7 separate regions of the Homo sapiens genome follow, and all the other regions are linked to region 1. The links come from fine-mapping of genetic effects on gene expression. A gene starts in region 1. Each other region holds a variant in brackets. All regions are shown on one strand. Distances are between the middles of the regions.

Region 1 (4,342 bases):
CGGGAGGCAGCGACGGGCGCTTGGAGACGTGTCCTGGGGCTTCGGGGCCTCTCCGCAGGGCACCTCCCCCCTCGAGGGCAACTCGCACCCCGCGGGCCGGGCGGCTGCCCGCTCCCCACTGCCCGGTCAGCCCCAGCAGCGGAGACGCGGTGCGGCCCAGGGTGCTGTCGCTGCTGCCTGCGCGCCGCAGGGGATCAGCGCTGTGTGCGGAGAGGCTCTTGCGCATGGAAGGGGCGAGGTGCGGGTCGCGGGGCCCGGGAACCGCGGAGCCCGCCCCGGCACCAACTTCCCTACCGAGTCCTCGCGCCTAGCCGGGAAACACGGCTGGGCTGTCAGGACGGAGAAAGAGAAAAGCCCTTCCCGCGCGGGGATGCGCGGAGCCAGGGCCCGCGGGGCTCCAGACGAACGAGCCCGGGTCCCGGGTCCGCTGCAGCCTCCCTCCCGGCAGAGCCGCCCTGCGCCCCACCCCGCCGCTCCCGAGCCCGGGGGCCCGACAGCTGCGACGGTGGCAACTCGGGTTTCGCAAACAGGGCGCAGCCCCTCGGAGGAAAAGTTCCCGCAGTGGCCGCGGGCGGCGGGCACATACTCACTTTCTCCACTCGTCGGCCAGAGCGAGAGCGCGGCGGAGAGAAACAGGAGCCCCCACAGCGAGGTCGGGGACCCTCCTCCGGAGCCAGACTTCATTCCTTTTATTTGGGATGAAATTCCCCTTTCTCAAAAAAAAAAAAAAAAAAAAAAAAGAAAAGAAAAGAAAAAAAGGAAATGAAAGGAAACAAGTCTCAAACTCAGTCTTCGCTCCCCCTCCAAAAACAAGGGCGAAGGAAACAATACTCCGAAGGCGGCGCCGCCGGGGCCCTCCGGGTGCGCGGACGGGGCGGGCGGCGCGGGGCGGCCCCTCAGCGCCGGCAGCAGCGGCCCAGGGCTCGGCGGAGTCGGGAACCCGAGGCGCGCCGGGGCGGGCTGTCGGCGTCGTCGGCCTCCATTTTCAAACCCGGAGAGGCAGGAAGGGGGGAAAACTGCAAAGAAAGGGGGCAAAGCCCAAATCTGCCTAGGCGAGGAAAAACAAGCCCGGCCCTGGCCGCGCGGGAGGCGGCCGGACGCCCGAGCTTCCGCCGCGGGAGGGCGCGACGCAGTTCGCAAGATCGCCCCGAAGTCCGGGTCACAGGCGAGGCCGGCGAGGGGCAGAAACGCGGAGTCAAAATGAATGAGCGGCTCCCCCTCCTCCTCCTCCTCCTGGCTCCGCTCGCCGCCGCCTCCTCCCTCAGCGCCGCCGCCGCCGCGGCGAGCTCCTTCCCAAATCCAGGACACACACAAAGCGGCGGGCCGGCCGCGCCGCGCTCAGCACTCCCGCCGCGCCGCCCGGCTCTGCGCCGCCGCCCGCCCCGCGCCGGCCCCCGCCCGGCCCCCGCCCGCCGCCGCCTGCTCTGCGCGGGGGCTCCGGCTCGCTGAAGGTCACAGCCGAGGCGAGGCGCGCCGTGGAGCTGCCCCCGCGCGGGAGGGGCGTGGAGGGCGCGGGGGGATCCGGGGAGCGGGGCCGAGGGTCTGCGAGCGCCGGCCGTGGGCAGGCTCGCTGGCGGCGTCCCTCTCGCTCTCCCGCCTCTCTCGAGTTCGCCTGGTGCGCTCGCTCCTCCTCGGGTTTTTTCCCTTTTTTTTTCCGCTCAGCGGAGTTAATGCTGGTAAACAAGAGCCCCAGCCTCGCCGCGCCGCCGCCGCCGCTGCCACACACTGGGGGCTCGCGCGCGCGCGCGCGCCCTGGCCCGCGCACACGCGCCCGCTCGCACACTCGAGCGGCCACCGCCGCAGCAGCGGCGCGCCGAGGGCCCGGCCCAGGCCGGCGCGCGCAAAAAACCGGAGCCCGGTTCCCCAAGACGTGCGGAGCGGAGCCCGGGCGTGGGGCGCGAGACTGCGAGGCGCCGCCCCCATCTCCCGCCCCACCGCCTCCCGCGCGCACACAGAGACACGCGCGCGTGCCCACCCGCTCCCGCCCCCACCGCACTGCGCCGGCCACCCCGCACGCGCCCTCCCCTCCCGCCCGACTCCAAAAACAATGCCCCCGCCGCCGGTCCGGTCTCGGCGGGGCAGGGGTGGGTAGCCAGGGAAAGGCTAGGCAGGGGAGGGGTGGGCAGGAGAGGGGAGGGGTGGGCGGGGAGTGCGGGGCTGGGAGAGGTTCATTGAAAACAACAACAGCGCGGCTGGAAAGCGCGTTTCCCCGGTTCTTGAAAAGCTTCATTGTTTCTTGCAGCTGTTGCAAAATAAATAAATGCGTGCATGCGGCATTTTTTTCGCTGCGTACTGGAAAGCCCGAACGTGGCGGAAGGGGCGCACCTGGGAGAAAGGGGACCCCCCCCCCAGGCTACTACGCCGGGCACTTTCACGCCAGGCTGGGGTGCCCGCGGCGTTGCGACCGTGGAGCCCGGAGTTTGGGGGCTCAGGGGGAGCGGAGGGGGAAGGGCGCGGCCCGTGTGGCTCGGCCCAGAGTGGCTCGAGGAGAGAGGACCCCGCCGCCCCTCGCGGGCCCCGCGCCCCGGAAGGGGGGCCCAGACAGGCAGCGCCGCGTGCCCCGGGCGCGTCCCCGCGGCGGCCGCCAGAGGGCGCGGCGGGCGCTGGGGAGGGCAGCCCGCGGAGAGTCGCCTCCCTCCCTCCGGGGGAGGAAATGTGGGGGCCCGGGCTGGGGGCCGACTCGGCTGGGTCGCGCTGGCGTGGCCTCCCGGACCAGCCGCCCGCCCTGAGCGCTCTCCGCGGCCTCGCGCAGCTCAGGGCTCCACCACGTGGGCGGCTGCGGGGAGCGGCCGGGGCGCGTGCACGCTGCGGGTCTCCGAAGCTCGGGGGGCGTGTCCGGGTCCCGGGGCGCCGAGGAGGGGGTGGAGGCTGGGGCCGGGAAGCCTCCCTTGGCCGCGGTCCCGACCCGGGAACACGCCGCATGCACTCGGGATCAGCGGCTACTGCGGAAACCCACCCGCACCTGTCTCGGGTCCTCCCAGGCACGTTCCTCTTGCTTCGTTTGCTACGTAAGTGACTGGAAACCAGTACCGACCCTAAGTCTCCGCGGTTGTTTTCTTGAATGTGCAGGAGGAGAGGTTTCCCCAAAGCGAGACTCCCCTAGGACTGCCATCTAATGAATAAATGCTGCGGAGACCAGGTCCTCAAAGAGGGAAACAGCCCAGCAGTGGCAGGAGAGAGGAGTTTGAAATACGTGGACTTTTACAAACAGTGATTGGACCATGTGTCGCCCTTAATGTGGTCCGGTTTCATGACTCAGGCTAATTGATGCCAGTAATAAATTTTTTTAAGATAGCTAATAAAAGAGTTGTGAATTGTCGAGATAAGAAGTGGTTGTCTCAAACAATCGGGTAGGATGGTAGAAGGGACCTGATGTAAAGGAAGGTAGTAGGTTTCTTTTACTCTCTAATTCTAAAATACTTCTGCATTAGAACGTGTATCCATCGTTCGTAAATAATTTTTTAAGAGCTGAAAACAAGTCAAAAGCTATCATAACGGAAACTTAGCCCTTTTTTTCTAAAGTTGTTTCCTAGATCATTTTCCTCCTTGGAAATTTCTAGCTCAATTCAGAGTCAGTTGTATAGAAAGAAAATAAACCTTGTTTTACCTAAGAAAGTTATTCATATGATGGGATGGTTTTGTTTAACTGAAATTCAGCTTGATTTTTAAATAAAGAGTTTCAGTTTTGGATGTTCCTAGATTTAACAGTGAAATAAATTTATTAGAATCTTAAAATGTATTATTTAAAAATTAGGCACTACACATGAAGAATTAAAGTCCAGTCTACTAATTTTTAAATATTTCTTAAGTTCTCTGCATGAGGTTGGTCTTGATTCCTGCAGATCCACTCTGGAGTTAAATGCAAAGGAATATTGATATATAATTTCATTATACTTGATTTCAGAATTTTTAATACATACTTGTAAGACAAAAATTTAGAGCTGATTTTTAAAAGGCTAGTGCTAATATAAAATCTTCAAATACTACCCAATGTATTTTTAGTATTAGTAATAAATATGCCTGTTTATTTGTCCCCAAGAACATAAAGAGGTCTATAGAATTTTTAAATGTATATAGGTTGTTGTAGGGGTTGTAGGATTTGTTTTTGTGTGTTTTTTTTTTACTAAAATGATTTTTATTTGTGAATTTTTTAAATGTTTGTGTTTTCCTGAAGTAGTAGGAAATCAATCGTATTAAGTTATTTTAAACAGTGAAGTGGGAGATGTATCATTATATAGCTTAATATTTAGGGAAAAAAAAGGAACAAAAATTTAGGTTGTCTTTACGCTCTAACTTGACCACATGGACAAAGGAGGTGATTTGTATTTCTTCAATGATTATA
Region 2 (4,342 bases), 45 kb before region 1:
ATTGAAGAGGTGCTCTCTCACACACATCGTGCATGCTGACAGCCATCTCACCAGAGTGGGCACCTCTTTAAAGCCTCTGAGAGTAGAAACCTCTGTCAACCCCAATGCCTTGACCCGTCAAAGGAGGGCAACACAGGGAGCTCGTAAAAAGCTTTACAGAGCTTCACTTTGTATCTCATAACCCACATGTAAAGGAATGAAACTGACTTACTAGGGAAAATCCTATTATTTCAGACCTTATATCCCACTGAAAAGCATACACTGTTTGCACGAGTTAACTATACTGCAGAATATCAAATTCTTGTTTTTGTTCACAACCCATAGAGGCAGGAAAAAAAATAAAGACAGAAAACACAATCTAACCCAACTACATGAACTCCTCCTGCACATACAACATTTTCCTTAGAGGACAGAAATGGATCTCACAAATTTGGAACACAAGATTTCCACTTCATCAGGCAACTGCCACTCATCACACCCTGTTTCTATTAAATCCCATTCCCTTCGTTATCTCCACACTTAGCTTTCCTTCCACGCACTGCTTACACACAGTTCAAACTTTCCCCAGCAAGCCACAGGAAAGTCGGCCTCCCCGACTTCGGCGCACCCATTCTTTATTCAGTGCTGATGCGCAGATCACACAAAGATCCCTTCATGCTAAGAAAGTTTCCACCCCACCAGAAAATCTATATTCTTCCATGGAAATTGAGAAGTACATTTTTTTCTCTTTTACAAGTTCCAGTTGAGAACAATATAATTCTCAAACAGATGGAGAGCTCAGACAAGCATGAGCAACCCTTGCCTTTAAAGCAAATCAGGCAGTGAAGTGTGAGGGGCCAAGTGTCAGTCACTGGCACCTGCATCCCCCCCACCCTGAGTCTGGCCCAGGAGCGCTGGAGGCTGAGGTCCAAAAAAAAAAAATGGGGAAAGTCAGGTGGCCACAACCACCTCACTCCAGGAAGGTGGGGATGTTCATAGAGCCACACAGCAGTTCAAGTGGGGATCCCTAAGCCTTCCTATGGCTCATCTTCTCTGAAGGGTTGACAGGCATGCTAATGGATTGTCGTGGAGGATTAATGAGCCTGCCATGGGCCAGGAACACAAGAATGAATGGTGCAGTGACATCTTTGAGGAGCCGCCTCACCCCTTTAATAACCCTCCCATTTTGTTTCCCTGCACCCTTGCGCTTCAGCACGAACTCTGTTAATTTGCTTAAAAGTCAGCAGCATGTTACATCATGTAGACACGAACAATTATGCTTTAAAAAAAAAATCCAGAGGAATAAAAGTATGCCAATTAAGTGCATAGGGATCAATGTAAATGCTCCTTGCTACCAGATAAAGGACACATTTCCAAATGGTCACCAGAAACGAGGCAGGTGCTGCCAAGCAGCATGCTGACAAAGTCAGAAATGTCTCCCATTACTCCTCTTTAGGATAGCACAAGTACAGCCTTGAAGAAGTCTACCCTTGACAGTGGGCAAAAACAGAAGACAGGAGGTCAGGCCAGGCACGGTGGCTCACGCCTGTAATCCCAGCACTTTGGGAGGCTGAGGCAGGCGCACTGCTTGAGGCCAGGAGTTCGAGACCAGCCTGACCAACATGGTAAAACCCCATCTCTACTAAAAATACAAAAATGAGCGTGGCATGGTGGCATACACCTGAAGTCCCAGCTACTCAGAAGGCTGAAGCACAAGAATCACTTGAACCCGGGAGGCAGAGGTTGCAGTTAGCCGAGATCATGCCATTGCACTCCAGCCTGGGTGACAAAGCAAAACTCCGTCTCAAAAAACAAACAAAACAGGA[G/A]GTCATTCGATCAGGGAACAAAAACATCCCTGGGAGGTGGAGACGACCCAAAAGGCAGGCAAGCCGCTGTGCCCAGTGCACCAGGGAGGCAGAAAACCCCAGGCACCCACCAAGCAAGTCTACAGCGTCCTCTGCATTCTGCAGCAGGAGGCAGGGCTGAAGGACAGCAGCCCCATTCAGCAGCTTTGTGGACCAGTCTTCCCAGGGACCTGCTGTAGAACAAAGCTCAAGGTGTAAAGGAAAACAAAACCCAAAGTCTCAAATCCCCACAACAGGGTGGTAAATCTTGCCCCTCTACATGGAAATGGCACTACTCCAAGGCAAAGCAAACGCTCCCCTGCCCGTAGCCAACATCACCTCTATGCCTGCCTCATTCTGCTCATCCAGGACCCAGCTTCCAAGACCAAACAGGTCTCCCAGCCACAGCACAGCATCCTATAGTTGCTGGATGGCACAGCAGGAAATAGCAAGGACGTTCATATGGGGTCAGGGGGGTGCTGCAAGCTCTCCCCACACAGCCCTGGGTTAGGGAACCACAGAGCATGCTCCACCAGCCCCTCCATGCTCTCTAGGCAACACCACGGGCAAATGGAACACGGGACAAAGGGACATGGGACAAAGCCTTGGCAAAATGCAATCACGCTGGAGACTAAGGATCCAGGGTCTCCCACTGTTCCACCACTCATACCTCCCCCACCCAGGCTTACCCCACCCTGAGGCCCCTACTATCTAGGGCGGGGGTGGCTACGTCTATATCCTCCCTACTGATGTCCCCATACCATCAAGCAGCTCTTACCAATGTATCAGGTGGTAAACAACAGACTCTCACTAACTCCATTTTTAAATGCTGGGGCATATGACCAAGGACATTATCTCAGGTAGTTGTTGCGGGAAAGAGCTTTTAGATAATGGCTTTGATTCCTTAAGGGTAGACCCCTATTTTGTTTATATTGTTAATGAGAGCTTGGTACTAAACAGTTTCCAAATGTTACTGGAAAGTCCAAACTCACCATCATCTTACATAAGGTTTCCAGGGTATGGTAAATAAATACACTTCTGACAATTAGAGAAATGCACACTAAGATATTTTTAGCTTGGCTGAGCATAGTGGCTCATGCCTGTAACCCCAGCACTTTGGGAGGCCAAAGGAGCAGGACTGCTTGAGCCCAAGAGTTCAAGGCTACAGTAAACTATGATGATGACACCACTGCATTCCAGCCTGAACAGAGCAAGACCCTATCTCAATCAATCTTCTTTTTTTCTTTGGAGCCAGGGTCTCACACTGTCACCCAGGCTAGAGGGCAGTGGCACGATCTCGGCTCACTGTAGCCTCAACTTCCTGGGCTCAAGTGATACTCCCACATCAGCCTCCCAAGTAGCTGGGACCAAAAGCAAGCACCACCATGCCCAGCTAATTTTTTTGTATTTTTGGTAGAGATGGGGTTTCACCATGTTGCCCAGGCTGATCTTGAACTCCTGAGCTCAAGTGATCTGCCCGCCTCGGACTCCCAAAGTGCTGGGATTACAGGCATGAGCCACTCTGTGCCCGGCCAAAGAAAGAAATATTTTTAACTTAACAGATTCACACACAAAAAAATTACCAATCTAATAACACCAAGCTTGAGTGAGGACATGGGGCAACAGGCACTCTCCTACTTTTGGGAGGAGCATATGTGTACAGCCATTTTGAAGGACAACATCTGCCAAAAAATACAAATGCCTATAACCTCTGAACAGTGACTCCTCTTCTAGAGATCCAACCCTCATGTCAGTGGGGCAAATAGATGTATGTCCCCACGCATACACTGCCTCATCCAGGTGGTGAAGGTTAACAACAATGGTGATAGGTCATGCTGACAAATCACTGAAGGGAGGGCATTTCAGCTCTGTGGTCTTGCTCCCAAAAACCCATGGTCCCAGACTAACCATAAGAAAACCATGGGCCGGGCAGGGTGGCTCACACCTGTAATCTTAGCACTTTGGGAGGCCGAGGTGGGCAATCACCCGAGGTCAGGAGTTCGAGACCAGCCTGCCCAACCTGGTGAAACCCCATCTTTACTAAAAATACAAAAATTAGTTGGGTGTGGTGGCAGGCACCTGTAATCCCAGCTACTCGGGAGGCTGAAGCAGGAGAATTGCTTGAACCTGGGAGGCAGAAGTTGCAGTGAGTCGAGGTTGCACCATTGCACTCCAGCTTGGGAGACGAGTGAGACTCTGTCTCAAAAAAAAAAAAAAACAAAAAAAACCATGAGACAACTCCAAATTAAGGGGCAGTGTGCACAAAACCTGGCCAGTGTCCCTCGAAACTGTCAAAGTCACCAAGGACAAGGAAAGTCTGAGACCCTGTCACAGACCAGAAGAGGTGAAGGAGACAGCTAAATGTAATGTGCTGTGATGCGCTATTCTGCACAGGATCCTAGACCAGGAAAGGAACATTGGGCAAAACTGGTAAAATCCAAAAAAAGTCTTGAGTTTAGTTCACTGACAGTCATGGACTAATGCTGGTTCCTTAGCTGTGGCAAATTACCATGGTGACA
Region 3 (4,342 bases), 400 kb before region 1:
CGCCTGTAATCCCAACACTTTGGGAGGCCAAGGTGGGTGGATCACAAGGTCAGGAGATCGAGACCATCCTGGCTAACACGGTGAAACCCCATCTCTACTAAAAATACAAAAAATTAGCCAGGTGTGGTGGTGGGCACCTGTGGTCCCAGCTACTCGGGAGGCTGAGGTAGGAGAATGGCGTGAACCGGGGAGGTGGAGCTTGCAGTGAGCCGAGATGGCGCCACCGCACTCCAGCCTGGGCGACAGAGCGAGACTCCGTCTCAAAAAAAAAAAAAAAAATTACATGTAAGTTTGGTATCCATCTTGCATTATTTTTTTAGGTGGGGAACACAGTTCTCCCCAGTTCCCACAATGGGGATATCCAGTGGCTCCAGTGTCCCTTCCTGAAAAGTGAAGGTTAGCTTTCAAGTGTCAAAGCAATCCTGGTGACTGTATCTTACTATCAGCAAGTGTCTCTAGGTGCAGTGCACGCTTAGGGCAACATTCATCATTAAGGACAGTTCATATGAACCCTTATTTAAAAGACTATACTTGGCAATTATAACACTGTTTGGACTTCACTTCTAATCTGATTAGTTCATCATTGTTTTTATCTTTCAATGCAGCTAAGAGCTTATAGTAGGAGTAAGAGAAGGGCCAGTTCTACAGATTTGTTTGGTTTCCTTATGTTTGCATTATTATAGGATATAACATACATATTATATAGTGTAACCTTTTAGTATGTGATAATATTCCACATCTTTTTAAGCTACTCATTGATTTTGTTAAAAATCTCCACATTGATGAGGGTTTGTCTCTTTCTCTGTATAATTTTGTCTTTTATTTTTTTGAGACTGATTCTCGCTCTGTCGCCTAGGCTGGAGTGCAGTGGTGCAATCTCGTCTCACTGCAGCCTCTGCCTCCTGGGTTCAAGTGATTCTCCTGCCTCAGCCTCCCAAGCAGCTGGGATTTCAGGCATGCGCAATCATGCCAGGCTAATTTTTGCACTTTTAGTAGTGACAGGGTTTCACCATGTTGGCCAAGCTCGTCTCAAACTCCTTACCTCAGGTGATCCACCCACCTCGGCCTCCCAAAGTGCTGGGATTACAGCCGTGAGCCACCGCACCTGGCCTAATTTTGTCATTTTTTACTTGATGTATTTTGAGGAAATGATACTAGGTACATATACATTTTAAATTATTATATAGTCCTGTTGAATTCAATCTTTTATCATGAAGTGATTGTCTTATCTCTGCTAAAACTATTGTCCATAAAGCATATGTTGTTTGATACTAATGTGGCCACATCAGCTTCATTTTGTGATTTCTTCAATCTTTTAATTTTAATTTTTGTGGGCTTTTATTTTAGATGTTTTTCTTGAAAACAGCATATAGTTGAAATTTTGAAAAATCACCCTGTCATTGTCATTTAACTGGAACATTTAACCATTTACATTTTGTGATATATTTGGTTACATTTGTTTGTTTTGTTTTGTTTTGTTTTTGTTTTTGAGACAGGGCTCTGTCACCCAGCCTGAAGTGCAGTGGCACTATCTCAGCTCACTGAAACCTCTGCCTTCCTGGTTCAAGCAATTCTTCTGTCTCAGCCTCCTGAGTAGCTGGGACTACAGGCGTGCACCACCACGCCTGGCTAATTTTTATATTTTTAGTAGAGATGGGGTTTCACCATGTTGGCCAGGCTGGTCTCGAACTCCTGACCTCAATTAATCCACCCACCTCGGCCTCCCAAAGTGCAGGGATTACAGGCATGAGCCACCACCTGTATTTGGTTACATTTGGCACTTTATTTTGTGCTTTCCAATTGTTCTACCTTGTATTAGTTTCCCGGGTATGGCTGTATTAGCCTGGGGTCTCCAGAGAAACAGAACCAATAGGATACATATGCCAATAGGACAATTAGGTAAATGATTGATTGATAGATAGATGATGGATAGATAGATAATAGACAAAGATATTTGCTATAAGAAATTGGCTCATGTGATTATGAAGGCTGAGAAGTCCAAACTCCAGCAAACTGGAGACCCAGGAGAGCTGATGATGTCAGTTCCAGTCTGAAGGCAGGAGAAAACCAATGTCCCAGCTCATTCTTTCCTACTCATCTTTTCATTCCATTCAGGCCTTCAGTGGCTTGGATGAGGTTCACTCCTATGAGGAAGGCAATCTGCTTTACCCAGTCTACCAAATCAAATTTAATCTCTTCCAAAAATCCCTTCCCAGATACATTCAGAATAATGTTTCATCAAGTATCTAAGCATCCTGGGGCTCAGTCACATTGACACATAAGCTTACCCATCACATTGCCATAAGAAAGTGTTGCAGACGGGGTGGCTTAAAATGACAGAAGGTCATTATCCACATTTCTTGAGGCTACAGGTTTGAAATCAAGGTGTCAGCTGGGCCATGCTCCCTCTGTAACTCTGGATAGAATCCTTCCTTGCATCTTCCGAGCTTCTGCTGGTGGCCACCCATCCTTGGTGC[A/G]CTTGGCAGGCAGTTGCATCACTTCCACTGGCCCTGTGGTCACATGGACTCCTTCCCTTTGTCTGTCTCTTCTCTTCTTATAAGGACACCAGCCATATTAGGTTAGGGCTCACCTTAATTCAGCATGACTTTATCTTTACATTGGCAAAGACCTTATTTCCAAATAAGGTAACTTTCACAGACACTGGGGCTTTGGATTTCAACATATCTTTTTGGTGAACTCAATTCAACCCGTAATATACCTGCTCCATGCCTCTTTTTCTCTCCTTTCTTGCCTAAAAATGTGGGATAAGTTTTATTATTTCATTTATTTTTTCTACTGCATTGAGAGTTATATATTCTATTTCTATTCTTTTAGTTGCTATTCTAGAAATTATATATATTTGCATGTATACAATATGCACATTACAATGAAGTATATTTAAAGGTAATCAGTACATTTGCCCTCTCCCAGGACAATAGAAAGGTTTTAGACCACTTTAATTCCACTTGCCCTTCTTCCAACCTTATGTAGCATTATTGCCATGTATTCAAATCTATGTTTTAAAATAATCTTCTTATTGTGAAGAAAGCCCAGAGACAGAAAGCCACATGAATCAAATGTGTGGCTTACTGAATGATTTTAAGATAAACATCATTCAAGTCAGAAATAAAATTTTGCCAGTCTTCCCAGAAGCACCTCTGTCTGCTTCTTCCCAATCACAAACCCTCTTTTATCTCTTAAGTAACCACTGTGCTGGTTTCTATACTTATTAGTTCCTTTAAAAATAATTTTATTTGGCCAGGTGTGGTGGCTCACACCTGTAATCCCAGCACTTTGGGAGGCTGAGGAGGGCAGATCACCTGAAGTCAGGAGTTTGAGACCAGCCTGGCCAACATGGTAAAACCCTGTCTCTACTAAAAATACAAAAATTAGCCAGGTGTGGTGGCATGCACCTGTAATCCCAGCTACTCGGGAGGCTGGGGCAGGAGAATCACTTGAACCCAGGAGGCGGAGGTTGCAGTGAGCTGAGATTGCACCACAGCACTCCAGCCTGGGCAACAGAGCAAGACTCCATCTCAAAATAATAATAATAATAATAATAATAATTTTATCAACCAAATGGTGTATCCATAAAACTACAGCATTGCTTTGCCGAGTTAAAGAATTTAAGACTTCAAGTCTCTTTTAATCTGTAAATTCCCTCTCATCCTTTTCTTTTCCGTAGAGATAATCTCTTGGGGAACCTGGGCTCTCCCTGAGTGGTTTAGCTTCCTTCAGCTTAGAGTTTGCTGCTCACATCCTCACAGTACACTGCATTTCTCTGCCTTCTGTATTTCCAGAAATTTGGGCAGCTGGATCCAGAAACTGTATCAGATTCAGATTTGATCCCTTGGTTTGGCAAGACAATAGGAGGCATATAAAGCCCTGTTGTCTCTTTTATTGATGTTAGCAGTTGTTGATGCTTAGTGCCTACATCTAATAATTCACTGGGGATGCAAAATGGTGACATTCTATCTTTTTTATTGTTTTGTTATTTAATGGTTGTAATACTGTTCTAAGGAGATCCTTCTCCAACTGCTATCTGGTTACCCAGCAGTACAGTTCATATAGAAACGGGGATAGATGCTAGATTCTTCCTTTATTCATCAGTTTCCAAGATAATGAATTGGTTTCCTGTCATCCTCTGAGGGTGACTAGTTCTTTTTTATTGTTTCAATATTATTATGTACTCACGAATTTAAACATTATCTTTACTGTAGCTTCAAATTATTCTGACTTTGGCTAGTGCGAACCTCTTTAGGTTAGTTCTTGAGTCCTTTGGACATGATGCTAGAAGTCTTTAACATTGCTGCTTTCTGATATGACAAGATGTTCCAGGACC
Region 4 (4,342 bases), 100 kb after region 1:
AGTGAGCCATGACTCCACCACTGGACTCCAGCCTGGGCGACAGAAGGAGACCCTGCCTCTAAAAAGAAAGAAAGAAATACACATTTCTGGGGCCCAATCTAGAGCGATCGAACATAATTCTGGGCGTCGGGCTCAGCGCTCTGAGTTTTGACAACCCCCCTACGCCCAGCTCATTTGAGAATGCCGGTCTGAGATGACTGATTCCCAGCTTGGAACATTTGAGTTACTGAGGTGATTGATTCTAAGAGTCAGCTGGAGCCAGGACTAGCAGACTGGGAATACATTCGTTTAACAATGGAATACCATTTTCAAATCATCATGCATTTCTTTTCTGGGTGCCATCTCCTGTGCAGGGGAGGACTGGAAAGACAGGGAAATTCTGGTAGCCTTGGGAAGGCAGAAGGGTGGGGCTTGGCTGGCCAGGGGACGGGCGCGGAGGGGGAGGGAAGAAGAGGAGGAAGCCGCGGGGCCTCACAACCCATCTGGTTGGAAACGTCCTGCAGTGCCGCCCGAGCCGCAGGAACCGGAGCCAATTACAAGTTTATATAATAGAGTCAGTCTCCCCGGGCCTCCCCTCTCCGCCCCACCCCTGCCGGCTTTGGGGATGGGGGAGGAAACGCTTTCCGTGAAATACAGGCTGGATCTAGGACGGAGGATGCCTTTTCTGGATTGACAACTAGGGGCCAGTCCTGAGTGTGAGAAACTCCTGGGGTCCTGTTTTGGGATCCGGACACCTCGGGCGCCGCGCAGGCCTCCTTGTGCCTCGGGAGCGGCCCCGCCTACGGAACGGGACCTGGAAGGGAGGTGTCCGGGTCGAGCGTTCGCGCTGCTCCCCGCCGCACGGTGTGAGCTCGCCGGGTTTATGTAACGCCTGCCCTTCGCGGAGGACCGTGTCATGTCCGAATCGCGGAGGACGGAGGAGGCGGGGGCCTGGGCCGCGACGCCCGCCCACGTGACCGTCAGATGACTGGGGTCTAAGTTTGCACGAGCTCCTTTACCGTAACGCTGAAGGCTCCTCATCAACATCGGCTCTTAGTCATCCCCGAGTGACATTTGATATGAGCAACAGCTCAGGACGGGGAAATGGCAACGCGGATGCTGATGGAGACGAGGAACGGCTGCTGCGACCGCCTCTGATTTGGGCTGGAACGGGAGTTTATGCGGAGTCAAGGAAACCCACCGCGAAGGGTGCCAGGGAAGACCAGGGCACTTTTCTAGACAAAGAATCTTAGATTCTTTGGGGCTAGATGCAGAGAGTCCGGGAGAAACTGTTCACCGGGTGCCAGGCAGGCGGCTGACCACGCAAGCCACGCTTCAGATTTGTGGGTTGGTTTTAGAAGTCACATGAGGTCTGCCTGGACGCCCCTCCCGATCACGTCAATTATCTGTCACAACTTCTCTGTGCGCCCCAGGGACCAGCCCCATGCCCCCAGCGGGGGAGTTGGTTACAGCTGCAGAATCCCGGCCCCACCCCGCCTCCAGAGCACGAGCCTGCGCTAGAAGGATATCACCAGGGGATGGGGGGGAATGCGAGGGGGGCGGGGAGGTGGTCACGGATGCAGAGGCTGTCCTGGCTGCTGAGGCAAAAAGCCCGTCCCAAGCCCTGCATGGGCTCCTACTGCACTTCAGGATTTGGGGGAATGCAGAATCGTGGTCTTTGAGTTTTCATTAATTCAATAAAGATTTCTCAAAAGCCTAAATTCTAGACCCAAGACAGTGGGAATTAAACAGGGCTGAATATGACGCTATTGGCTATACCAGGACCACGCCTGAGCATTGCATGCACGCTCCAGCTATGCATAACTTATTTATTTTAAAAGAAGGAAGGAAGAGAGGGAGGGAAACAA[G/T]GTGTTTCTTAAGAGTAGAGGAGGGGAGAGGCAACTTGTTGCTTTCACTGGCAACAGTTAACTCCATAAGCAATTTCCTCACTTAAAAGAAAAACAAATGAAGTAGAGTGGTAGGCTTTTGAAAGGAGGAGCAGAGAGCTCCGGTGAGTGGAAACCTAGCTTTTATTCACCTTAGGGCCTTGTTAAAACACATTTGCCTTGAGATAAAAGGGTTTCTTTTGGGACGATCCCAAAATGACTTTGCTTGATTCAATTAAGCAAGACCTAACGAAAGAGAATTCCAGCTTAAGATACGCATCATCTCACCAGGTGAGTTGTAAATACATTCTGACCAGGTTTCAGAGGCAAGCTCTTGAAAATTTAATCTATTTAAAAACTGCATATCCTTGCCACAAATTGCTTTGAAGAAGATCGCTGAGCTGATTGCATGCTGAGATAATTATTCTGTATCACCACTTAGGGAACAAGATTTTTTGATAAATACTACAGTGTCAGTCTTTGTTAATGACTTGGGAGGGGAAGGAAAGGATTCGATATAGCTGAGGCTGGTTTTATTTTCTTGCCTCTTTCCCATGAACGCAGGCTGTGGGAAGCAGGTAGAGTCTTGGTTTATGAACTCTGAACGCTATTGAGTAACCTATTCACCTGTCAAATCCCTAATCCCCGCATGAAGGTGTACAGATGGTATTGGAGTAGAACACGAAACTGAGAGGTGAAGCCAGCCGGACTTCTGGGTCGGGTGGCAACTTGGAGAACTTTTATATCTTACAAGAGGATTGTAAAACGCACCAATGGGCGCTCTGTAGCTAGCTAGAGGTTTGTAAAATGCACCGATCAGTGCTCTGTAAAAATGCACCAATAGGCGCTCTGTAGCTAGAGGTTTGTAAAATGGACCAATCAGCACTCTGTAAAATGGACCAATCAGCAGGACATGGGCGGGGACAGATAAGGGAATAAAAGCTGGCTACCCCCCAGCCAGCAGAGGCAACCTGCTTGGGTCCCGTTGCATGTTGTGGGATATCTGTTCTTTTGCTCTTCACATTAAGTCTTGCGGCTGCTCACTGTTTGGGTCTGTGCCATCTGTAAGGGCTGTGACACTCACTGTGAAGGTCTGCGGTTCCATTCTTGAAGGCAGCGAGACCAGGAACCCACCAGAAGGAACAAACCCCAGACACAAAACCAGTCTCCACCTGCGCAGGGCCCTGCCTGTGCCTTACCTGCTTCCCCTCCTGGAGACTCCCACCTGTGAATGGATAGATGGTAGTGTGTTGCTGGGTGCTGATGGGGGAAAGCCCTAGCCTGTACCCCCGTTATGGATAATATGGAAGTCAGGGTTCTCAGGTGCTGGTGAGCCAGGCCTCCCCACATCCTACGTATGACAGCACAGGCTCATTTCTCAGTGCTCTGCCCCACTGAGCCTGGATGTGACCTCAGAGGAGTCCTTAGCACTGTGATTAATCTCTTCATGCTTTTCTTCCTTTTTTTTTTAGACAGGGTCTCTCTCTGTCATCCAGGCTGGAGTACAGTGGCACCACTGTAGCTCACTGCAACCTCCGCCTCCTGAGGTCAAGTGATTCTCCCACCTCAGCCTCCCTAGTAGCTGGACTACAGGCGTACACCATCACACCCAGCTAATTTGTGTATTTTTTGGTAGAGACAGGGTTTCGCCACGTTGCCCAGGCTGATATCCCAACTCCTGGCATCAAGAGATCTGCCTGCCTCAGCCTCCCAAATTGCTGGGATTACAGGCATGAACCACTGTGCCTGGCCTCATTCTTTCAATAACTTAATAAATACTTATTAGGAATCTATTCTATACAAGTCGCTGATAACATAGAAGAAAAGAGAAAGAAAGAAATATAGATGGATGAATGGTGCATAGAAATAATACAAAGCACTAGGACAATGGTTAGTGGTTGGGAGGAGTAACTTTAGATATTGTAGTCAAGGAAAGCCTCTCTGAGGAGGTAACATGAGGAAGAGTTATTTCAAAAGCCAGAGGGGAAAGCCAGGCCCAAACAAAACAACAAAACAGGCCGGGTGCGGTGGTTCACACCTATAATCCCAGCACTTTGGGACGCCCAGGTGGGCAGATCACAAGGTCAGGAGTTTCAGACCAGCCTGGCCAATAAGGTGAAACCCTGTCTCTACTAAAAATACAAAAATTAGCCAGGCATGGTGGCGTGTTCCTGTAGTCCCAGCTACTCAGGAGGCTGAGGCAGGAGAATCACTTGAACCCAGGAGGCAGAGGTTGCAGTGAGCCGAGATCATGCCACTGCACTCCAGCCTGGGTGACAGAGCAAGATTCCATCTCAAAAACAAAAACAACCAAAACAACAACAACAACAACAAAAACTGTGTGTGCAAAGGCCCTGAGGCAGGAATGAACCTAACATGATCAAAAACCTGGCTCAGAACATGGACCCAGTGAACCACTTTGGACACTTGATGGGCATTTGATGGGTTGCCTCCGTGTGATCTCTAATTCTTGATGA
Region 5 (4,342 bases), 210 kb before region 1:
ATGCTTGTTTAGATAGTCTCAAGTATCTACCTCCAAAAGATTCTTCCTAATTACAAAGAGAAAAATAGTAATGATAATGGAGGAAGCCACAGAGACCACCTTAACTAAGGGATCAAAGCTAACAGCACCAGGAAAGGAAACATCACGCATCTCCTGACAGGATGCGCAAAGACACAAACAGCAGCACCTCTGTGATCTCCAAGTTAAAAATGTACCCCCCAAATTTAATCAGGAGGAAACATCCACAAACTCTAACAGAAAGATATTCTACAAAATAACTGGCCCCATGTTCTCCAAAAGTGCGAACTTCGTGAATGACTAAAGAAAACCCAGGAAAACGTCCCAGAATTAGAAAAACTGAACACAATAAATGCCAGGTAGGATCGTCTCTTGGATCTGGAACCAAAAAAAGGGACATCAGTGGGAAAATAGTGAAATCCGAATTCAGTCTGGAGATTAACAGCACTGGAGTATGGAGTGAACACTGTTTTGATAACCGTATTACGGTTATGTAAGATGTTAACATCTGTGGAAGCTGGGTGGAGGGTGTTCCAGAACTCCTGGTACTCTTTGTAACCTTTATGCAAGTCTGAAATTATTTCAAATTAAAAAGTTAATAAACGTTTTTAAAAGTTGATAAAGCAAAAGAAAACAACTTACAGCATGATCATCAACTAAGTTGAGAAAAAGACCTTTGAACTATAAGGATACATGCAAATCAATAAATGACTGACAAACTCAAAAATCCCACCTCCAATGATACACTTAACTTTGCATTCCTTGCACTTGAACCAGAGTTACTAAAAGCCGTGCACCTCAAGATAAAGTCACTGATAGCTTAATAAATAAGGTGAATCCCTAGTTTAGAGATATGACAAACCTCTACTTTTTACAGATGATTCCTAGAGAAATACTGTTGCTGGAGTTTATTCAGGCTGGTAGAGAACCGGGCATCCCAAGTTGAGGGCCCTTTCCATTCTGACATATTGCCTAGCATTTAATTTAGCTTAGATTTGTCTTCCAGCGAGGTGCAAGTGGGAAGTTAAGATGGTTGAAGGATGCAAAGAGGAACAGTCAACAAAATGCACGACAGAAAATTATGTGCGACTCTCCTGGATCCTTGTGACAACTCCTTGTCCTTTTTCTTCAAATGTAGTGAGAACTGTGTTTTTCTAACTTGCCCATATACCCTGCTCTATCATCTGCTACAGATAATATATGCTTCTGCTCTCTGCATGTTATACATAAAACAGATCAAATTCTTTCAACAGCAAAAATCTTTATTGCATTAGCAGAAATTTCCCAGCATCATAAGCCCTACAGTTTCCTGATCCACCACTATGTGGTAGGGAAGGCAATAAAAAGAGTTTGTCAGGGTTTCACCCAAATCTCATCTGAAAAGCTTGATCTACTTTTTTCCGGAGACCAGCCCCAAATGAAATGATCCTCATTGGGGAATAACAAAAAATTGAGGCCAAAAGTGAATGTGAAAAGCTACCATTTTTATTTTGTGTTCCCAGCATTATGGGATATGCAACAGAAGATGAGAATTCTGCTGTCAAGGAATGTACAAAATCCTTTTAGGTACATGTGCCCTATTTAGGCAGTATTACTGAAAGGAAAGGAGTGAGCGTACCATGGATTTGGTCCGTGCCTTGTACCAAGAGCCATGCTAAGGCTTCTCTGATTACATCCCCATAAGCTCCTTTTTACAGAAAGGAGACTAAGGTGCAAAGACTTGCTGACTTGTCCAGCATCAGAGGCTCAGAGGTGGTAAAGACGGGATACAAACCCAGAATGTCTTCACCCCAGGATCTAGGCTCTGTCAGACCATGCTGTCTCCCAAATGAAAACAAGTTTTGCTTGCAAAGGCTGCAACAACTAGGAAGTATGTAGTAGAGGGTGGAAAGCTAATGTCCCCTAGAAGCAGGGCCTAACCTGAGAACTGCGAGAGAGGCCATGGAGGTTGGGGTTATGAACACTAAGGAGCACCAGCGCTGCATGCAGAGGGTGTAAGGGTCCTCCCTACGCGGGTCAGCATGGTGAAAGAGAAGGACTAGGAGGGCGGAGCTAATAGTAGGAGGGGAGAAGACCGATAACAAACTTCTTCAGAATGTCCCTGCATGTATATTTATCTGAGAGGAAGGTGTAAGGAGGCCCTTCTAAAATACTATGTCATTGAACTAGGTGTGCCAAGGTCTTGTATATAGCACATCAAGGGGAAAGTGCATTCATTTGGAAGATTTGTTTTTTCACTACTGAGTTGGGCTTCGATGTGGGTAAATGAGTTACATTCATTTAAATTATTCCAGCAACTATCATGAGAGAGACAGACTGAGACGGAGAGATGTTCAGAGAAAGACAGAGACATAGATGGAGGGAGGGAGGGAGGGAAGAAAAAGAAAAAAAAATCATGCAAAGGAATAAATTTATCACACATTTATACCTCACCTTTCCAGAACTCAACTATTCAGCAAATAAACATTTCTGGGGTAGTCAAGCACCAGGAAGAAGCTTGGTTTCACTTACTGCCTATTTACTCTTAACACATAACTCTAACAAGCTTAGAAATCTGTTTTCAAAGCACTCACAGCAAAAAGGAAGTGGCAAATAATCACCTACAGAGG[G/T]GCTGATGGAGACGGCTTTCTCTTCTTACTGAAATAAGTCTATTAAACAGAAATGGAGACATAAAAATGGTAAAACCAAACCATAAGAACACAATAAGCACAAGAAACCTTCAGCAGAGGGCAAACTGCCTCCCACTCAGCCTTGAGGGTATCACTGTATTATGCATAATACAACAATTTATGCTCGCTGATGTCCTCAAGTTGGCCAGAAATGACTAAATTATATTCACTGGAGTAAGAAGCAAAGAAGTACAGAATACATGTTGGAAAGATTTCCAGCATGATAGTGCACAAAAACTGGTGCAGTAGTCTCAGTTCTCCCTAAGGCTTTAATGTATTTCATCATCTGGTCATTGCTCGATCTGACAAATATTTACTGAGCATATTGGAGAGACTTGCTGTGAGAGGCCTGGCTCCTGCTTTCACGGAGTTCAAAATCTACTAAGAAGCTGAGATACTCAAGATCCACATTTCTACTAGGATGGTCTGTACAAGGGTTTGGATTGTTGTACTAAGTGCTGCGCACTGACTCCGAAAATCATGACTTATTTTTGGATATGAGCAACTGAAATTGGCCTAAATGTTAAGAAACGGTGTGCCATTTCAAAAGTCTTTGATCATACAGTTCAGAGTCAAGGATCAGTCAATACTTCAAGAAACTCCAGCCTGGCCAACATGGCGAAACCCCGTCTCTACTAAAAATACAAAAATTAGCCAGGTATGGTGGCACATGCCTGTAATTCCAGCTACTCGGGAGGCTGAGGCAGGAGAATTGCTTGAACCCGGGAGGTGAAGGTTGCAGTGAGCCGAGATCGCGTCACTGCACTCCAGCCTGGGTGACAGAGCAAGACTCCATCTCAAAAGAAAAAACTTCAAGAAACTACCCATGTGGTCATGAAACCAAGAAGCAAGGCATGCTGCTTTGGCTGCACAAAAATATACAGTACAGAAGACCAACAGAACCACAATTCCTGAATTTCTTTCTCTTTATTGAAGAAATTAATTCTAACACATACACCTTCTTATATTTAGGCTAGGACATCTTATAACTAAATCAATCTATACAGTTAATCATGCATTTAAGAATGTGTGTGTTTGTTTTTTAAAGTGATATTTATTAAAAGGAAAAATCCTGGCTATCTGGACACTGAGAAATGCACAAGCTTGCAAAAACCGTAATTTAATCAGAAAACCCAGATACAGTAAAGTTACTTTTCATTTTCTTTTTGTTTCAGAAACCTTGCAAGAAGTTCTTTCCCTTCTTGAGGGCAAAGCTTACGAACTGGAAAGTTTCATTTTAATGGGTTCTTTCTTGGGGCAAAAACATGCAACACCAAATATTCTAGAGTGTCTGAGTGCAAACATCGCAGATGCAGTAGTGCAAAGGAAAAGCAAACACTTTAAAATCAAGTATGTCTTAGTTCAAATCCTGTGTTTACCACCTGCGAAGTGTGTGAGGTAGACAATTTATTTTTCCAGGCTTCCATTTGTTCTTCCGTAAAACAATGTTGGTAGAATCTACCTCATCGGCTGTTGCAAAACTAAATGAAATGTGCTTTCAATACACTGGTCATAATTATGCAGGTGGACATGCTGAATTTTTACACCGATCTCAATATACATGGGCTTTGTAACTGCAATGATAGCTCAGTGGAGCTCAAACTGGATGTGTTTCTAAAAGTCCAAAAAAAGTTTGGACTTTTTTTTTTTTTTCC
Region 6 (4,342 bases), 300 kb before region 1:
GGTGGGGCGCGGGGCTCTTGAATTCGACTTCAGAGTAGTATGTGTTGTGTTGTAGCCTTCTTTAAAAAGAAACAAAAACCTCACATGGAGAGGATGAGTAAGGATGGATTACTCTGGCCAAACATTTCACAGAGACATTTGGCCTGAGAAACTACAGTGTGAACTGCAAATCGGAACGAAAGCATTACGGAATATGGGGTAGAATTAAGGTACCCACGGAAAAGCACAGGTCGACCAACCCACTCAGCTCCTTCCACAAGGACAAACCTCTTAGCCACGCCTGGCAAGGGAGGCGCAGGACCAGAGAGAATGGCTTTAATCTCCTAATCTCCTGTGACCCAAGAAAACAGGTATTTGAGAAGAGAACTCAGAAGAGCACGGAGGGCCCAGGAAGTACGTACAGCATGTCAGGACAGTTGTCTGGCTTGTCCAGAAGGCCGCCCTCCATGACGAAGCGAAGGACTTGCTCGTTGGACAAGCCCTGGTAGGGCTGCTCGGCCAGTGTGGCGATCTCCCAGAGGACGACCCCGAAGGACCTACAGGGAGAAAAAAACTGTGAGGAGCTTGGAAAGGGATGGACTGAACAATGCTGCCCCCTCCTTTCCAGCACTTCTTACATCCCGAGCAGATAAACTGTCCTTACTATGGTGACAGTGCTTGTCAGACAGCGAGCCAGGCCCTGGGCTAAGTGCGGGATATCATCCTCCCTCTGTTGCTGCTAATGTTCCCCGTAAACTAAATTCAGCCCCGGTGGTGGAGCTAAGGAAGGTGGTGAGGGCGCTTCCGGCATCCCTTGCACGGTCAGGAAGCCCCTGATCTGTGCTTTGAACGCAGAGCATACTGGGTTCAGCATCTACCTAGTCCCGGCCATTTATCTGGCAAGGCGGTATCACCTAACCTGGCTTTGACCCAAAAAGAATGACATTCTTGTCCAAGCCCCAGCCTGGACATTGACTTAGTAGCCTCAAATGAGGCCTGGGACAGTCAAGCTTTACCAAGCTCCTCAGGTGATTTTTACAATCAGACAATTTTGGAAACCTCTACCCAGGTGGTTCTCACTGCCGGCTGCACAGGAGAATCTCCTGGGGAGGTTTTTAAACAGAGGGCTGGGCACCCAATAGAAACTCTGATTTGATTGGTCTGGGGTGAGGGCCTGGGACCTGGAATGTTTAGAAGATCTATAGGGATCTTGAGGTCCAGTTGGGCCAAGGGAGAAGAGAACTCCTGCTGCTCCCCCACCCACAACAGAGCTGGGGAGCTGCTGGCCTGCAGGGCCTCTGTGTCACAGGTGGGGGGACCAGGGTGGGCTGCACTGGCTGGGAGGGGGTATCATGGACAAAGAATCCTTAAGCAGAGAAGTTGGCTGAGGAATAACTTTGTAGTGAGCAATTCTGCCATATGCATGCAGCTTTGCCAGTTTAGAAGATCAAACCACTGGAAAACAAAACAGAGAGTACACACACAACTTTCAGACAGAATGTTAAAAAAGACAATGCTGGAATCTGCAAAACAAATGTGCCCTCCCAGGGCAAATTCCGTAATTCACAAATTCTCCCTGACCTGTGTGCCTTTCCATGTGGTTCACTTTGGTGGAGTAAAATAGGCTACTCATCACCAAGTAGGGGCGGGAGCAGGGTGGGGAGCAGGGATTCTAGCTGGACCTGTCCTGGGCTGCAGGTGCTGGTCAAGCCACATGGAAAAACCTGGGGCAGGAGATTTCCAACCAAGAGCTCTTGGGACCTTGACCTTGTGCCCAAGCCCACAGTGCTCCTGACTGTATGAGAACGTTTTATTCGCTGCTTCAGCTACTTTCGGTGAATCAAAGATTTTTGTACAAATTGATACTAAAAGTAGATGTTAGACAGAAATAGAATCTTAGCAATCAGAGGACAGACCAACCCAAGGTCCTTTTTAATTACAAGTGACCAAGAAATGCTGTCGTCTTCATGTTGTACAAGACACCCAGAGGCCAAAAGTGCAGTTTAGAGAGGCCTGGGCCCAGGGGAGAAGGGGCTCTCCATCAGCTTTGTGCGGGAAGCTCTGCCTTCCACAACCAGCCCAGCCATACAGGCAGCATGCCTCAGATGCCAGTGGCAGTAGTACCCACACATCTGAAATGCAGCTTGGTACAAGAAATGACTAGCTCTCCAACAACAAAAAATTAAAAATAAAATAAGAAGAAATGACTAGCTCTCTGCTTTTGCTGACTGCAGGCTGGTCTGGGAAATGGCCTGAGGATGTGGCTCCCTCCCAGACCCACTTCTCCTCTTGCCCCACGTGCCCTTCCTGGCTGTGTCAG[C/T]GGCTTGCAGGCAGCCAGTTCTCACGGCACGGCTCCCACCCTGGCCCTCCCGGCCCAACTGCTCCATTCCAAGTTCCCAGTTACTGGGCTACCCACAAACTCACTGCGTCTCACACTGAACTCCGATTTGTGCCCTGTTCTTCCCCCGGCTTCCCTGCAGCTGATGCCCATTCCACCCGAGCAGTCTGCCTGCTGTCACCCATGCCCTTGGCCTCCTCGGAGTCCCACTGCGAACTGTCCACCCAGGCTCACATCTGTCCAAGGTCTGGCACCCTCCTTCCGTCCCTCAGAGCTCCCTGAGTGTGCAGGATCCTGCTTGCCTGGCCCACCACCACCTCTCCTTTGGTTACAACATCTTGCTCAATGCAGCTGTATACTCCGGCTAACAAGAACTTCAAGCACAGCTCTAATCACCCTCTGGTTCAGAAACCTTAACAGGGCTTAAAGAATTAGTCCAGGATGCCTAATACAACAGCTGAGGCCTGTCTTGATCTCTCTGCAGCCTAAGTCCCACGAGGAAACCTCACCAACCCCACCTGCAGCAGGTGCTCCCTACTGCCATGCCTGCCCAGCATTCCCACTGCCAGGAACCCCCCACCCCTGCCCCGCCCCGCCCCGCTTCCTAGTGCTCTTTTTGTGACAATCCATACTTAGGGTGCCTACACAACTTCATCTCTTCTGTGAAGAAGATGATGCAACCCCAAACTGTCAGAATTGCCTCCTCTTCTCCACAAGACTTTATCCTTCCAGGACCAGGACGACGACGACGCTGTCATCGTCGTCATCGTCATCATCGTCATCATCATCATCCCCGCATCTTCCACACCCCCAAGAGCCTTACCATCACCCACAGGCAACGATACAGGAGGTAGCAGACCTAGCTCTCCACAAACGCTTGTCGAGGTGAACTGCAAAGCCTATCTCCTGAGCAACTCTTGTCTGAGGTCAACATCACCTGCCACTGAGGACCACTGAGTGCTAGAGTCAGTCGTCCTTCACAGCTTAATGTGACAACTGCAAGGTGTGGACACTGAACCATCTCTACACAATACCAGTTGCCACAGGAGCCATTTCAACATCTATTCAGGTACCGCAGACTTCTCGAGACAGACCTTGCCTTACAGATGGAGCAACCGAAGGCCAGAGAAGCTCTGAGGTTTAACCAAGGCCACACAGCCAGTCAGAAGCACCGAGAAATATGCAACACCTCTGTGTTTTTCAAAGCCGGTATTTTACTATGTGGTGTTGGCTCTTCATGACTTCATATAAAATCAAGTCTTCCATTTCATGGACAGATTTAATCTTCAAACAGTAGATACATGTCTCTGTGTAAAGCCCTTTCTAATTAGGAACCTTGACGTTGTTTCCCCAGGGGGAAGACCGGCGGCTGTGAGTCCCCCTGCAATGCCCGTGCTGGCTGGAGGCAGCATTCAGTAACTATACTTCCCCACACCAGGAGGGGATGGTAGCAATGGCCCACTCACCAGCAAATTAAAACCTACAGAGAAATCCACATTCCCCACAGATGGTAATTAGTCATGAAAGAAGCAAATAACCTTGGCTATTTGTGACTATTTGGAAAGCTTCTTAATAAAAAATAAAGATTATGTGTTGGGTGATCCAGATGCTCGGGAAGAAGCACAGCTCTAGGCTGTGGGGTGCAGCTCCCCAGTCCTTCGTCTGGTTTCCTCCATGCCTAGAGGGCACCCTTGTCATTTCAGAGGGACATGGTGCTACAGGGAGCTGCAGGGAGAGCAGCCACAGTGCCCAAGGGCCTGGGAATGAAGTCCTGGAAGACAGCAGGAAACTTGGAGGTGTTCTGGCTAGAACAGACACACCTCTTCGATGACTCCTAGACCTATCTTATCAAGAACAGAGCAAGGTATGCAATTGTGCTACAGAGAGAAGGTCCAATGGGTGTCACACAGAGGCTGACGTAGCAGAACACGAAAGATTTGCTAAGAGCAAGGATGTCTAAAGCATGAGGCTGGCCTGCCTTTGTGAGGCAGTGAACATGGAGTCCCTGGAAGGAAACCTCTTAGC
Region 7 (4,342 bases), 310 kb before region 1:
GATGTGTATGCAAATGTTTCATGGTCTAACATAGAACTGTAAGACCCATGAAGAAGTCCTAGGAACAGAGAAAATGTCAACAAAGCTTAGAATGCTTGAATCCATTGACTGCTTTTCTTCTTACTGCTGTTGTGGTGTTTGAATTTCTTTCCTTGCAAACCTGCATCAACAGTGGGGCTGAGTCCCTGGAAACCCCTTCCCATCTGTGTCCTTGGGGGCGGGCGGGGGAGCTGGGGCTGGGAGAGAAGCAGGCATGGGGCCCCTTGACTCCAAGCCTGTCCGCCAGGCTGCTTCGGGGCCCATGGCCACCAGATTCTTGGGGGTTGGGCAGGGGGCTGGGGAGGCAGGGCAGGGAAGCCGGTTCAGCTTCTCCCCACCTTCACTGAGAGAAAGACCTATTGTGTCCAGTTCCCCCAAATAATAATCTAGTCAGAAGCAATGAGACCTGTGTGCCTGTGGCCTTGAGCAGCACAGCAGGGGCAGTCGGATGGACGGAGTGTGTCGCCAGCGTGTCTCTCAAATGGAGCAACCAGCTGCCATGCTCACCCATGCCTCCGGACACGAGGAATCAGCGCCGGGCCGATGAGGGAGAAAGTTCAGGATTTTGGCAAAATTAGGCAGCGTTAAAATGGTAACAGCCTTGGATGAACGATGGCCCTTTGTAAATTTCATGTCCCTAGAAAGGTGAAAGATAAAGGTAAAAATTTCCATCTCCACGTGTTTTTTTGTAATGACCCACGGTGTCAGGCGGGTGTGTACAGTGGTTGGATGGGGCCACAGGGACAGCCACTTCCTCAAACTGATAAAAAGGGCTTCCCAGCTGGACTTGTGGCAATTATTTTTCCGTTATGAAGCAGAGAGGAGAGAGAAAGGGAGAACAGGGAAGGACAGGGACAGAGTGAGGAGACTGGTTCTCAAGTGCTCTGTTGCTATTAAGTGTTGTCATTAAGGTTCTTAAAGGCCCATGTCAGTTAAGGGTTTGGGCAGGGAATAAAAAGCTGCTTGCATATTGAAAAAAGGAACATCCCAAATGTGTTTTACTGCAGAGAAGCTGTCTCCCGCGGGCAGCAAGGGCAGTTCTGAAGATCCACTGAGGTACAGGAGGCTTGTGAATGGATTGTTAAAACTCTCTCTCCCCCCCCACCCCGCTGCGCGTGCGCACACGTTACTGTTTGCACAGATTCAGGATCCAAGGATCAGCAGGTCGAAGACTGGGGCAGCGGCAAGGCCCGCTCGTTCTTGCGGCCCCCGTTCATGTGGGCGTAAGGCTGTCTCTCGTCGAAGCTGGCGCGGAGGACCAGCACCCCAGGGCCGGGGCCGTTCTCGGCCTTGTGTCCTGAGTGTCTGTCGGGCAGTGGCAGGGAGGACGAGGAGGCCGAGGGGTCCAGGGGGACGCTCTCCATGTTCTCTGGCTCCAGGTCCAGCTCCTCCGGCTCGGGCAGCTTGTTCTCCTCGCTGTAGTAGAAGGAGACCTCCCGGAAGCCAGGCTCCATCTCCTCTTTGATGCTGCTGATGATCTCCAGGAAGGAAGGCCTCATCTTGGGGTTATACTGCCAGCACATGCGCATCAGTTCAAACCTGCAGCCAAGACACACGGGAGGGGGTCCAAACCGGGAGGGCGCACATGGCCAGGAGGCTTCATGGGCCGCCTGCAGTGGTTTCCCGCATACAAGCGTACGGCGGGAGCACTGAACACAGCCCTGCTGCCCCTCTCCATCCCTGGCTTTCTGCCTGGATGGCCAAGTGGCCTTCAGAGTCTCCTGTTTTACCTCGTACGGTTCCATTCTCTTCCCCCAGAACCCAGAACCACCACGGTACAAAACCCAAACTCTCCTTTCCCAAGAAGGACTAATCCAGGTCCACACTGTCCATCGTGACAGCTGTTATCTATGGTGGCAGTGCTAAGAAACAAAAATAACCAGTTTTCTATCTGAGGC[G/A]TCTCATGCAGGCACTGCTGAAACATCCTTTCCAGAATTAGCAGGAAACCCCTGGTTTCTCACCAGGAAGGCTGATGAGTGACCGCAGCTTCCCCAACAGTGCTCTCTCTCCGGTTCCCACCTGTGCTATTTCTAAGCTTCCTCCTGGTGCAGGGCTACCCCTGGCAGACAACCAAAGGAAGAAGGCACTGTGAGGCCAGGCTTGCAACACGAAGAAATGCACACTCCGAGTCTGCTGTCTCCATCTAGCACGTGCTCGCTCCAGCCCTGCACAAGCAAGCCCCAGCCGATGAGCCAGGCTGTTCTGGACCAAACGAGAGGCCCCGTGTAGACCTGAAGCCAGATTCCAACAAGCCAGCAAGGAGAGCCCTGGGCACGAGTCCCCTCCACACGCAAGGGACAGGCAGAACAGGATGACGCTTGTGCTGTGTGTCGGTCGCATCGGCTGGGCTCCGACAGCACCTGGGCTGCAAATACCTGTGAGGCCCTCAGAGTCACATGGAGCAAAGGGAGTCCTGCCGGCTGTGGCCGGGGCTCCCCAAGAAAACAGCCGGCCACACGTGGACAAGGAAAGCCGGCTGCCCTGACCCAGGAAAGGCCCGGGCTTTGACAAGCTTCCAGAATGCAGAGACCCAGCTAAACAGACTTTTGGGGCAAAAAGCAGCTGGCTACCATCCAGGGCTGGCCATAGTTCTGAGGAGTGACCGCCAACAGCCCTCTCTTACATGAGCGTGAAACCAAAGTGCCTTCCTTTCCACGTCTGTTCTCACCAGGAAGTTATCCTCTTTATTTTAAAATTCTGGCTAAAGAGATGCTTTTCCATAAAAGTGGCCACACAGAACTCTCCACATCTAGGAAACTCAAAGCACACCCAGTGGCATCTAGCCTCCTGTCAGGGTGGCTGCTTGACCACAGACTACCTGCCCGTGTCTGGCCTTCAGGGAACATTCCAAGGGGAGGCCCCTGATGTAAGAGAAGCCACTGGGCCTGGAAGCTGGCCTGCCAAGAGAAGGGCTCCTATGGCCACCTGGCAGCTTCCTTCAGGTGGAGAAGGTGCAACCTTGAGGGAGGGTGGGCCTGGGTGTGAGGGAGAGCCATCCAGAATTCACTAGAATTCAGCGTTCTAGAGCCCGGGGGCCTGCGTCTCCACAGGGCCTAACCCGGGGCTGCCCGCCTCTACATCAGCTGCACTGGCATGGGGCCACGCTCCCTCATTTCCATGTGGGCTGCAGCTGCTTTCCAGCTACAACTACCAGCTGAGGACATTAGGACAGAGACTGTGGCCTGCAAGTCTAAAAATGTTTATTTACCACGTCGCCCTTTAAAAGAAGGAAGGGTGCAGGTTCCTGTTCTGGGGAGAAAAGAATTAGACAAAATATGAAGGCCCCCACAGTATGCTTCTTAGATTTGGAGAGTTCCATGTGGCCACTTTTATGGAAAAGTATCTCTGTAGCCAGAATTTTAAAAGTCTACCCCACGGTAGAATGCCATGTGCACGCTAGGTGCCAGGCAGCGAGGCAGTTATGTGTGTGAACTGCTGAAGTCCTCACGAGTTTGTGAAGCAGGTGCTACTGACTATAATATACCCCCATGTTACAGATGAGGGAACAGAAGCACTAAGATACTAAATAATTTGTCCAAGATTACAAAATTCATGAGGGTGGAGCTGGGATGGAGTTCTCTGCGCAACAGAATGACTACACTTTGATCACCAACGATCCTGGAAAAAGGAATTTTTCTCAACCTAAATAAGAGTAACCCTGGGGCCACCAGGAGACCCTCCCTCACCTAACTGTCCAAGGAACAGTCACAGATGTCACAGGGATGTGGTTTGCATTGATAAAAGCTGGCAGCTTGATGACAAATAAGCCTGCCTTTCCAAACTCCCCATCACTTCCTAAGAAAAATGATTGGGGTTAAAAAAATTAAAATAGGCCATAACGACATGAAATGCCTGGGCTGTGAATTCCTCTCCAGCTGACTTACCCCTGGGCAGAAGCGTAACTGGGCCAAGAGCATGAGATGTGCTTGGCTCTGTGCCCTGTGGCCAGGGACCGAGGAGGTGCCACAGGAGAGCAGCGAGGCAGTGACATCAGCACAAACAAGCCATGTGACGCCTCTTTTAAACCATTCCAGAGTAACAACCCTTCCAGTGCTGCCCATGAAAGGAAGTCTTTTTTGCTCTGTGGGATTCAAGACCTTGTTTACTATTTCCACACACACAAAAAATCTCCATTAGACTCTAGAAGGATGTGTGAGCTGATAAAACTCATCTTTTAAAAAGCACAATTTTTTTTTTTTTTTTAACCACAGGTCAGTTCTGGGGAGGCTGGCGCCATCCTTCTCGAATGCTCTCCCCTTTGGGGGACACATACCCAGCCCTTCTCCTGGAACAGGGACAAGAC

Direction of the effects. Positions count from the first base shown, and alleles are read on the strand shown. Sizes are in standard deviations (SD) of each study's normalised expression. Not every link is listed here.
For the expression in non-classical monocytes of the gene that starts at base 1,727 in region 1, T is the high allele of the variant in region 4 and G is the other (large effect, 1.1 SD a copy in Schmiedel 2018).

What was found. PIP is the estimated chance that this variant, and not a neighbour inherited with it, causes the effect.
Region 2: its variant is fine-mapped to the expression of IGF1R in whole blood (INTERVAL, PIP above 0.99).
Region 3: its variant is fine-mapped to the expression of IGF1R in whole blood (TOPMed, PIP above 0.99).
Region 4: its variant is fine-mapped to the expression of IGF1R in non-classical monocytes (Schmiedel 2018, PIP 0.95).
Region 5: its variant is fine-mapped to the expression of IGF1R in blood mononuclear cells (TOPMed, PIP above 0.99).
Region 6: its variant is fine-mapped to the expression of IGF1R in whole blood (TOPMed, PIP above 0.99).
Region 7: its variant is fine-mapped to the expression of IGF1R in whole blood (TOPMed, PIP above 0.99).

What each region holds. Positions count from the first base shown.
Region 1 is chr15:98,645,924-98,650,265 of GRCh38, reverse strand. IGF1R (insulin like growth factor 1 receptor) reads right to left here and starts at 1,727. Exons shown (of 21, transcript NM_000875.5): 1 at 591-1,727. The coding sequence starts at 684. It overlaps IRAIN (IGF1R antisense imprinted non-protein coding RNA), which reads left to right. Exons shown (of 1, transcript NR_126453.2): 1 at 1-4,342. RefSeq lists silencers at 1,703-1,972, 2,343-2,402, 2,463-2,932, 2,943-2,992 and an enhancer at 3,004-3,625.
Region 2 is chr15:98,691,067-98,695,408 of GRCh38, reverse strand. The region is part of intron 1 of IGF1R (insulin like growth factor 1 receptor); the gene reads right to left. Among named protein-coding and RNA genes, the nearest start is that of IRAIN, 42 kb to the right of the region's middle. The variant G/A (reference allele first, on the strand shown) is at 1,806.
Region 3 is chr15:99,041,237-99,045,578 of GRCh38, reverse strand. No RefSeq gene overlaps it. Among named protein-coding and RNA genes, the nearest start is that of LUNAR1, 29 kb to the right of the region's middle. The variant A/G (reference allele first, on the strand shown) is at 2,478.
Region 4 is chr15:98,544,969-98,549,310 of GRCh38, reverse strand. No RefSeq gene overlaps it. Among named protein-coding and RNA genes, the nearest start is that of IGF1R, 100 kb to the left of the region's middle. The variant G/T (reference allele first, on the strand shown) is at 1,848.
Region 5 is chr15:98,859,078-98,863,419 of GRCh38, reverse strand. All of the region lies in intron 2 of IGF1R (insulin like growth factor 1 receptor), which reads right to left. Among named protein-coding and RNA genes, the nearest start is that of MIR4714, 77 kb to the right of the region's middle. The variant G/T (reference allele first, on the strand shown) is at 2,628.
Region 6 is chr15:98,944,768-98,949,109 of GRCh38, reverse strand. IGF1R (insulin like growth factor 1 receptor) reads right to left here. Exons shown (of 21, transcript NM_000875.5): 20 at 402-536. Among named protein-coding and RNA genes, the nearest start is that of PGPEP1L, 61 kb to the left of the region's middle. The variant C/T (reference allele first, on the strand shown) is at 2,300.
Region 7 is chr15:98,954,297-98,958,638 of GRCh38, reverse strand. It overlaps IGF1R (insulin like growth factor 1 receptor), which reads right to left. Exons shown (of 21, transcript NM_000875.5): 21 at 1-1,578. The coding sequence ends at 1,197. Among named protein-coding and RNA genes, the nearest start is that of PGPEP1L, 51 kb to the left of the region's middle. The variant G/A (reference allele first, on the strand shown) is at 1,938.